Linked DNA regions of Homo sapiens. The protein of the gene in region 3 purifies or fractionates together with the protein of the main gene of each other region. This does not show direct contact. Each region holds a gene or a part of one and is shown on either strand. Other genes may lie near its edges.

Region 1 (3,370 bases), on a different chromosome or scaffold from region 3:
AAGGACCCAGCCAGCATGAGCTGTAGCGTGACACAAATCCAGGGATCAGCTGTCCCAATCTCCCACATTCCTCTTTCACAATCACTCAACAAACAGGTCACACATCCCCTAGGTCCACGAACTCATCTTCTCGTTTGGCCAAATCGTCTTCATCTCCCAAAGCTTTCCAGCCACTGGTGGGTAAGACGGGCTTAGAGGAATGTCGCTGGAGCAGAGCGAAAGGAAACAAAGACGAGAGGCGGGCAGAGTTCCTCAGCAGGCAGGGGGCCTCAGCCTGGGGGGCCTGCTGGCTGTGGTGTCTCTCGTCGATCTTCTCTTGTAAACTCTGGACTTCCTCCATCATTTCCAAGAGTTTGCTCAGAGTGGCCACTTGGCCACCACCTAGGATTTGGGCTTCTGGAATCCAACGTAGGTAGCGCTGGGCCCAGACTTTGATTTCGGGCCCCTCGATATGCGGTAACAACAAACCATGGTAGTCAGTGGACTTGCTATGCCAGCTGTCATAGAACTCTCGAAAGTTGTCTTGGAGCTCATCAGAAGAATTAATAAGTTTGCTAATTCTCTTGCCCAGAAGGTTTTTAATTAAATGATCTGTTTCTTCCCTGAAAAATCCTCTTTTGGGAGATGACTTAGATTGTGTAAGTGGCAAAGAAAGTTGTCGTTGATGCTTTGAGAGAAAACACAAATAAAAATCACTGGTTAACATAACAGGCACAGTTAACAGCTGTTACCATAACAAAAAGAGCATAACCCTGCTTTAACAAGTTCCAAGAGACATCAGTGTTGCCATGTGAATGCACACTCATTAACACGCTGTGACATCCAGAGGTGGGGTATTCCTGTGTATTGCCATGGTGCACACTGTACCAGAAACAAATGGGGAAGCAGGTGCACGTGGCAGCTGTGCAGAAAGGCATGCTGGGACACAGAGAAAGGAGCTTTTGGTGCCCTCCTCCTCTGTCACAGGGGCACCACAGGACACAAAGCACTTCTGAAAAAGCTGTTTAACTTAAGATAGTTTAATGATTTAGGGGAACTTGTGGGTCAGGCCCATTCATGTTCTAAAGGGAAAAAGATGTTTCTTCTTTGAGAACTTTAAGGCTGTTAACCACTACAATCTTCTGAACAACTGCAAGGAGGCACTGCTAACTACCAGAAGATACTATCACATGGGTGAAATAGCAGCTTATCAGGCATCCAGTGGGAGTTTAAGCCGAAGTCATAAAGATTCTTTTAGATACAGAAAACAGGCAGGTGAGAGCAAAGAAATGTGATGAGCCAGCTAAGCTGACCAGACTTGTCTGGCAACCTGCATGGAGTAGAAAATGGGAGAGCATTTTCACATTTTCATATTTCCCCCCTTGGTCATTCTCTCTGTGGCCAGAGCAGAGTATTATATTTGGGGGTGCACTGAGAAAGGGTTTTGAGGCTGGGCGCAGTAGCTCATGCCTGTAATCCTAGCACTTTGGGAGACCGAGGCGGGCAGATCACCTGAGGCCAGGAGTTCAAGACCAACCTCAACCTGGCCAAAATGGCAAAACCCCATCTCCACTAAAAATAGAAAAAATTAGCAGGGTGTGGTGGTGGGCACCCGAGGCTGAGGGAGGAGAATTGCTTGAACCCAGGAGGCAGAGGCTGCAGTGAGCCGAGATCACGCCGTTGCACTCCAGCCTGGGCAATGACAGCAAAACTCTGGCTCGCAAAAAAAAAAAAAAAAAAAGGGTTGTAAAAGATGGATGTGGTCGGAAGGTCATGAGGGTTCCCCAGTGCCCAAAGCAGAAGTAAAAACATGTGGGGAGAAGCTGTTTGTCCAGCTCTTTTGCTACTGTTCATTTGAAGTAAGAAGAGATAACAACTTAATTTTCAGGTTCACTCTAAAACTCTCTAACATATTTCCATCAATGGTTCTTCCTTGTAAAAAGATATTCTTTATTGTAAAGAAAATTATTTCCTTATTATGAAATATGGAATAACAATAAAAATATTAAAAAGAAAACAAAACCATCCACAAGACCACAGCTCGGAGGTGACCAGGATTTGACTTTCCATCCAGGGTCAGGAAAGATGAAGGCCAGGATTCAGTGGCCTCTCTTTTTCTCCATCGTGAAGATGTGTCAGGCAGGGCAGGGACTACACTGAACCACCACCCAGTGCTTCCTGCCTGCTCGGTTCTGTGCTCAGTACTCACATTCACTGAGCACCTCATTCTCAAAGTCACTATTATTGCCCCACTTTACAAGCAAGGAAACTAAGGCACAGAGGTAAGCAATCTGCCGAAGGCACTGCTGCTCAGTGCCAAAGGTGGTTCAAATAGTCTGGCTCCAGAGCCTGGGCTCTCTACTGAGCTCTCCTTGGTCCTGGAAGCCCCCTTCTCTCTATCTCCTAAGCAAAGGGAGCACTCAAGACCAGCTGACATGCCAGCAGCTCTGCAGGCCAAAGCCTGGCCCGGGCCTGCGGCTGACACCGAGGCTGCACACTGGAATGGGTCCCCCCCACCGTGTGGCATTTGCACGGCAGCACCACATGCTGCTCAGCCCCTGCTTCCTCAGAGTCTCTGCAGAACTTCCCCCAGGCCACCAGGCCGCTCAACACATTGCTCCACCTGATATCTGGTCTTCTTACCCAAAGGCTTCAAGGTTTCTTGTCGCCCCCGTCCCAACTGTGATTTAGCTAGTGCAACCTGAAATTCTCCACCCCTTCAGCTCAGTCCTTTCCCACCTGCCAACTCCTGGAGCTTAGGCTGTCTGTCCCTATCTCCCAAGGAAAAGAGATGATTAGAAAAGCTAGGTCTGAGGAGAGAAATGAAATCCATTATTGGAAGGGGGAGCCTTAGGTTCCTCCCGTAACACAACAGACGTTGTCCTCGCTGTCTCTGAGGTCCCCTGCCACTCTGGCACAGGGCAGTTTCTCTGGTGCCAATCCAGCTCTCATGAGAATGTGCATGCAGCCACCAGGGGGCACAACACACTGAAGAAAAACCAATTTCTGGCCAAGCTGTTCTGGGGCTCAGGGCAATTCTGGTTAAACTGGCAGAAGAGGCTCAGCCAGAAAGGGGAAACTCCACCCTGGGCCTGCGGCCCCTAAAAGGGCAAAGTGGCCATTCTGAGTCGTTCAGCAGCCAACATCGTCTCTGCTGGCCGTGGCTCACCCAGGTCCCCAGTCCTCTTTAGAATGGAACCAACTCTGACACCAGAAAGGGCCAGGCTTTCTGAAGCCCTCCAGATCAGGCAGGATAAGGATGGCATGGAGAAGGCAGTGACACACATCGACTTAGACTTACCATCACTGCTCTCTCCTTTGTGGACTCTGTGGGGGAGAAATTCTGGGCCTGGAGACAGAGCTAGGAAATGTCAGTTAAATAATTCATCAG
Region 2 (3,654 bases), on a different chromosome or scaffold from region 3:
TATGAATGAACCCCTATGTAGAGTTCTTTGTGCTATTCCTGCAACTTTTCTATAAGTTTGAAACTATTTCAAAATTAAAAGTAAGCCAGACTATGCACATTATTTTTTTAGTTATACTTAGGATCAGACTTAGTAAAATGGCTTCTAGTTATTACCTGTTGTGTTTTCCTAAATTCTTCTAAAATCTTTGCTGCCATTTCATAATCTTCTAATAAATGGTAAGCAATAGCATAACCAATCCATGATGCTCTCTGCGCAGGTCGAAGCTGAAGTAACTGATACCTCGTTTCCTTTAAAAGGAAAAAAATAAACACTTTTTCTTAGGCTTTTAGTAACAGCAAGTGCTCCTTTAAAAGATCTCCATATTAGGCCAGGCGCAGTGGCTCACGCCTGTAATCCCAGCACTTTGGGAGGCTAAGGCGGGTGGATCACGAGGTCAAGAGATCGAGACCATCCTGGCCAACATGGTGAAACCCCGTCTCTATCAAAAATACAAAAATTAACTGGGCATGGTGGTGCACGCCTGTGGTCCCAGCTACTCAGGAGGCTGAGGCGGGAGAATCACTTGAACCCGGGAGGCAGAGGTTGCAGCCTGGCAACAGAGCAAGACGCCGTCTCAAAAAAAAAAAAAAAAAACACACATTAATTTATCCCACAACCCCAAGCATTTTACAACACAATGATGGGAACAATAATAGAAAATACTTCAAACATCCATATTGTGTAGCTTTATGGAGGCAAAGAAATATTTGTTAAGAACATAATGAAGCCTCCAAGCTAATCTTAGAATTTTTTTAAAACTTAAGACCAGATTTAAGTTTTTAAAACTTAAGACCAAACTTAAGACCCTTCTTTATTTCTTGATCTGCTCAGTCCCAGAAAAGAGGCAGGATGGAAAGAACAGCACAAAGGAAAAATATTCAAAAATGTTTTTAAAAATTAAGTGTCCAACTACAGAGTTAACATACATAAAGAGGAAAGAATATGAAAGAGGAACTAAATAGATCTAACACTAATTTAAGGGTTAAAATCGAAGCTACAAAAATATATTAGAGTCAGTGGAGGTAGAAAGAAGAAACAAAACATTTGTTTTTGCCAGGTGCAGCAGCTCATGCCCGTAATCCTAGCACTTTGGGAGAATAAGGTGGGGTGGACTGCCTGAGCTCAGGAGTTCAAGACCAGCCTGAGCAACATGGTGAAACCTCATCTCTATTAGAATATAAAAAATGAGCTGGGCATGGTGGCACATGTCTGTAGCCCCAGCTACTCAGGAGGCTGAGGCATGAGAACTGCTTGAACCCAGGAGGTGGAAGCTGCAGTGAGCCAAGATCATGCCACTGCACTCCAGCCTGGGCAACAGAGTGAGACTCTAATGTCTCCAAGAAAAAAAAAATTTTTTTTTTGTTTTGCTTTCCAGAAAAATGTGGGAAGTAAATGTTAGAGTTACATGTCAATACTAGACAAAGGCATTGTTTATTTGAGGAGTACTGATTTTCTTTTTTTTTTTTTTTTTTTTTTTTTTGAGACAGAGTTTCGCTCTGTTACCCAGGCCGGAGTGCAGTGGCGTGATCTTGGCTCACTGCAAGCTCCACCTCCCGGGTTCAGGCCATTCTCCTGCCTCAGCCTCCTGAGTAGCTAGACTACAGGCACCTGCCACCACGCCTAGCTAATTTTTTGTATTTTTAGTAGAGATGGGGTTTCACTGTGTTAGGCAGGATGGTCTCGATCTCCTGACCTCATGATTCACCCACCTGGGCCTCCCAAAGTGCTGGGACTACAGGCGTGAGCCACCGCACCTGGCCTGATGTTAATTTTTATCAAATTAAGTCAACCCTACACAGTAGGCCAAATCTGCCTCACCATAAAATAATTTATTTTTAAAGATCTGATTATTCCAATCATAAACATAACCACTGTGGTAGGAGGAAAAAAAAATTCAATTAAATTATTTTCAAAATGAAATAAAAAATTTATGTATCTGAAAGTACTCAAAGTTGTACATATTTTCCCCTTAGAATTAAAAAAAAAAGTCTCTATTTTACTTACCCTGTAACCCTCAAGATCTCGCATTTGAATCTGTAGTAAGGAAAGGTCCCTTAAGATTTGAAGATTGTCTTTATCCCATTTTAGTGCATTTCTGTAACACTTAATGGCTTCATCATACTTCTTGTCTGACCTCTGAAGAAGGCCATAAACGTGCCAACCTAAAGAATTTAGTTAAGGGTACAACCTACAAGTCAAAAATTACTATTCCAAACGACCTCCCAAAAAACTTGGAGAACCACAGCCATTTATAAAACTACAAGCTTAAAAAGAAGGGGAAGGGGAGGGGGAGATTGATTTCAAAGATATAAAGCAGTTTAATACAGTGGAAAAGAGCACAGCTTTTGCAGCCAGAGAAAATTAGGTCTTGCCTACCTTATCAGCTCTGTAACCTTGGACAAATCAGTCTCATTAAGTTTCCTCATTACTAAAATGTAAACAAATAGTCTATGCAGCAAATCATACTACTGACAACTAAATGGGATAACATATATAAAGTGCTCACTGGCTGGCACAAAGTCAATATATATATATGTAAACAGTTACTATATTATTAATAGTAAAAGGAAAAAGAAGGAATGGGTCTTCATGGAATCCAGTTATGTAAAGTCATGAAGATTTTATTTTCTTGAACTAACAAGATTCTTAGGACAACCCTTAGTGTAATACAAAGTTTCTAAAACTCAGCCACATATAAAATAAAAACATTCATTCATTTAACCGTAATTATTAAAACTTCTTTCCCTTTTTTTGAGACAGGTATTGCTCTGTCACCCAGTCTGGAGTGTCGTGGTGTGGTCTTTGCTCACTGCAACCTCCACTCCCTGCACTCAAGTGATACTCCCACCTCAGCCTCCTGAGTAGCTGCGACTACAGGCACACACCAGCATGCCAGCTATTTTTTTCTATTTTTGGTAGAGATGGGATCTCGCCATGTTGCCCAAGATGGTCTCAAACTCCTGAGCCCAAGCAATACACCTGCCTTGGCCTCCCAAAGTGCGGGGATTACAGGCATAAGCTCCCAAACCCAGCCTAAAACTTCTTAATAACTAAGACGTAGGTCATCAAAATAGCCTCCTATATTAAAAGATCTTAAAGTCTAGTAAAGGACAGATAAATAAGCAAAATTAAAGTAGGTTGTAAAAACTGCTATCAAGGAGGAGAATATTCCACTTCCCAAATACAGCCCTTTTTCACTTTAGATCTTGATTACTGTACCAGCTACCCAACCCACCTATCTTCAGTCTGTCTTCTTTTATTCTCCTACCAAAGTAATTGGGTTTTGTTGTTTTTTGTTGTTGTTGTTGTTGTTTGTTTGTTTTTGAGATGGAGTCTCGCTCTGTCACCAGGCTAGAGTGCAGTGGCATGATCTCAGCTCACTGCAACCTCTGCCTCCCAGGTTCAAGCAACTCTCCTGCCTCAGCCTCCCAAGTAGCTGGGATTACAAGCGTCTGCCACCACGCCCAGCTATAATTTTTGTATTTTTAGTAGAGACAGGGTTTCACCATGTTGGCCAGGATGGTCTTGATCTCCTGATCTCGTGATCCGCCCGCCTCCTAATTATTGCGTTTTTTAAAAGAGATGGTCTCGCTCTATCACCTAGGCTGGAGT
Region 3 (3,654 bases):
TGTAAATACTGCTTTCATACATGATTTATAGTTATTATGCATCTTAATAACTTATCAATTTTAAAATGTTGACATCATCAGACTGTAAGCTCTGCAAGCAGAAAGCCTACAGTTCCCACAACCAGTTCCATGCTGCGTATCATCATAGGTACCTGGTAAGTAAGTGTATTGCTTAATATCCAAGTGAAAAACATTGTTATATTTGATCATGCAAATAAATACAGGTCACAGCACTGTTTGTAATGGTTGCATAGTAATCCTTTTTAGGGATATTCTATTTTTCACAGGACATTTAAGTGGGTTCTTTTAACTTCACTATTGGCCCATTTGTCTCATTTCTTTCCTGGAATTGGAATTTGGAGGAAAAAGTATGTACATTCAATTAGCAGCAAAAACTATTCAGAGTGTAATTCATATGTACTAGAAATTCTGCTAAGTGCTTTACTCATATTATTTTATTAATCCCTTCCAGAGCCCTACGGTAATAGGTACTCTCGATATCTCCAGTTTACAGATGAGGAAACAACATTCATCTTATCACAACTGGCTAATCAGTGGTACAGTCTGACTTCACAGCTTGTGCTAATAATCATTCTACATTTGATACCTATTATCAAACTAACCTCCAGAAAGACTGTCCCAGTTTAACAGTTTGATCAGCAGTGTTTGTTAAAAGAGTTCCTATTTCCCTACAATCATACCCATTTGGAGGATGTGCTTTGTCATTTCTTTAAAAATAAGTAAATAATTAATTCCTGGTCCATTTTACTATGGGTGAATAAAAAGATACCAACCAAGATATGCCACTTCTTTCCAGCACAGGCCCATTTCTTTTCTCCATTCATCTACAACTGCTAGCTTGTCTGATACACTGACTTCCATTTTGCAATCCAGTTTTAAAGAAGACAGCGTCTGCTTTGAACAGGCCCTTTCTGAGATTAGCCTCACCTTAAAAAAAAAAAAAAAAAGGATTGGAGGAAGAAGGGAAAAATTAAAAAGTGAAGAAAACAGAAATCTTTCATAATAATTGACCTTGTAGACAGTCCAAATCACAAACGAGTCATCTTTTGACTTTCTGAAGGTCCAAGTAAGAAAACTGACTGTCGAATTAAAATCATGATGCTTTAAAACAAAGCTCATTTTATTTCTCATAGCCCAATAAAGGTGAGACACAGTATTTTATTTTCTACAATAGAAAGGATTCTATCTACAGGTAAAAATTACAACATATATTGTCTGATACTACTCTAAGATTCTCCTATAATTCAATTTATCCAGAGGAAAGTCTATAACCTCTCTCTTGTGCTGCTTAGCAATACATATTTAGGATTTCTGGTAAATTATAATTATCTTAGCTAGCTTTCATTTAAAAAAATACACTTAAACGTTAAGTTATTTTGAATCAAAAATGTCATTCATAAGAATAAGCTAGATTTTAAAAATCCACAGGATATCGTCCTTTTCTAAAATGGTACACCTATTATCTAGGGAATCTTTCTTGCTGCAAGATCCTTTGGGAAACATTAGATAGCTCCCATTTAAAAGTAGTTATGTTTATATTTACTGAATAAACAAGAAATATTATTTGCTGATTAACAAATTCCTAATTCTACTCATCTAAAACTAAATAGTATAATAATTTTCTAGGCGTATGAAGGCCAAATTTCAGATATTTTAAGAGTTAATACTAAAAATTTAAATCTCTTAATTCCTTGCATGTTCTTTGACCCTGAATCAAAATATTATAAAATACTGCTATATTCAGGGAGCACATACCTCAATACCACTTTTCTTTAATAAACTTATCCCAATAGCATCTTTTACATCATAAGATATTATTTCTTTTTGGTCTCCTGATACATAAATGTGGCCATTGGTGAGACATCCATCAATATTGCAAACCAAAAGTTTTATTTCCTTAAGCTTCTCTTTGCCAAAATAGCCATATCTAAAAGAAACCAAAATAGACCTTTGAGTACAAGTGCAGTACTAATCACTCCCTCTCATCTGGCTAAACCAATACATGAAATGTCACCCTCCATTCAATTATTCAAACATTACTCTCCAAATTTACTTCACATATATATTTTAACATATAGTACAGTAAGTAAAAGTAGTGTGGTCTAGCCAGATAATGTTTCTCACTTTATTGAAGCCATGTAAACACATATTTTACATGTCTTCCTCACATGAACAAAGTAATTACAAAGATCCTAAGATGTCTGAAGTATCAGAAATCAGTATCTAGAAATATAATTATTAAGATTTAGTACAAAGGTTATAAAGGTTTATTTGTTTTTACCTTAATACTCTTTGCTCTGCAATAGGCCAATCAATATCCACATCTATATCCACACTATGTTCAGCTCGCATTTCGTAGTATGCCATTTTTCCACCCTAAAGGTAGTATAAATGTCATGAATACTGTTTTTAATATTCATTCACATATATCAAAACTTTATTATAATACAGAACAATGAATTCATTTCTACAGTACTGAGAAAAATGAATAACCCAGTAAAAATCAGTCACATAAAAATGATTTTTAAATTTATTTTTACTTTTTTATTTTTTCGAGTCAGGGTTTCACTCTGCCTCCCAGGCTGGAGTGCAATGGTGCAATCATAGCTCATTATAACCTTGAAATCTTAGGCTCAAGCAATCCTCCCACCTCAGCCTCCTAAGGATCTGGTACTACAGGTATACAGCACCATGTCCGGCTAAATTTTTAAAAAGTTTTTTGTAGATATAAGATCTTGCTATGTTGCCAAGGCTGGTCTTGGAAACCTGGCCTCAAGCTATCCTCTTGAGGCCTCAAGCTGGCCTCTCAAAGTGCTGGGATGACATGCTTCAGCCACCACGCCCAGCTTTTTTTTTTTTTTTTTTTTTTTTTTTAAGGAGAAAGCTCACACAAAAGAAATAACCTTAACATTTTTCAAATTCTATCTAAACAGTTCAAGTTCCCTATTTAAGAAAATTTCTATTTTAATATTGAAAAAAGCAGAAATATTACATCCTCCAGGTTTCTGACCACAAGGGATTTTGTGGAAATCCCTTAATCATATCCTCCTTTTTTTCAAGAAGTCTCTCCTGTCATCATCCAAAAGCAGTATTAAGGTTTTTGGAACTTCTGTTCTAATTTGCAACTAACAGGCAACACAGGGGAGGAAAAATAACTGTAGCATCTGTTGTACAGAGTTTTCTTAGATCTCTGAGCTACTGATGAAAATGACTAATAGTCATCCAAGTCACATGCAGGCAAAGGCAAGGGCAGTCTCTTGATTCTAGGCAAGGGTCAGCAAGAGAAAGGGTCTTTCTTCTGATAGTAATTATTTGAATGACAAGATCAATTACTGGACAATTTCAATTTCATTTTTTTTTTCAGAATTGTCAGTCTCTTCATAAACCTTGTTTTAATGAGAAACATTTTTCTCCACACTTTAGGAATGGGTTAATCATGGTCCTCCTTAGAAAAAAGCTTAAAAATGGTAGTATCTATGTGTGTCAAATCCAATTTTTCTGAACACTTAAATTTAACTAAACAGCTAGTCTATAGTTTGCCTACACATTGACCAGAAGATTTGTAAAAATGTTTTTCTCTCTTTTGCTCAGAATAATAGTCCCATTAGAATTTTTATTACACAATGGAGAGGT

Evidence for each region.
Region 1: the proteins of CMAS (region 3) and MTMR12 fractionate together in Homo sapiens (co-fractionation; one large-scale study listed by BioGRID). This does not show direct contact.
Region 2: the proteins of CMAS (region 3) and NAA15 fractionate together in Homo sapiens (co-fractionation; one large-scale study listed by BioGRID). This does not show direct contact.

What each region holds. Positions count from the first base shown.
Region 1 is NC_000005.10:32,229,681-32,233,050, forward strand, and holds part of MTMR12 (myotubularin-related protein 12), read right to left. Parts: intron 668-3,370; coding exon 98-667; 3' UTR 1-97. UniProt on the Homo sapiens protein: Acts as an adapter for the myotubularin-related phosphatases. Regulates phosphatase MTM1 protein stability and possibly its intracellular location. By stabilizing MTM1 protein levels, required for skeletal muscle maintenance but not for myogenesis.
Region 2 is NC_000004.12:139,339,462-139,343,115, reverse strand, and holds part of NAA15 (N-alpha-acetyltransferase 15, NatA auxiliary subunit), read right to left. Parts: intron 2,205-3,654; coding exon 2,047-2,204; intron 291-2,046; coding exon 156-290; intron 1-155. UniProt on the Homo sapiens protein: Auxillary subunit of N-terminal acetyltransferase complexes which display alpha (N-terminal) acetyltransferase (NAT) activity. The NAT activity may be important for vascular, hematopoietic and neuronal growth and development.
Region 3 is NC_000012.12:22,059,575-22,063,228, reverse strand, and holds part of CMAS (N-acylneuraminate cytidylyltransferase), read right to left. Parts: intron 2,398-3,654; coding exon 2,303-2,397; intron 1,949-2,302; coding exon 1,777-1,948; intron 949-1,776; coding exon 795-948; intron 1-794. UniProt on the Homo sapiens protein: Catalyzes the activation of N-acetylneuraminic acid (NeuNAc) to cytidine 5'-monophosphate N-acetylneuraminic acid (CMP-NeuNAc), a substrate required for the addition of sialic acid.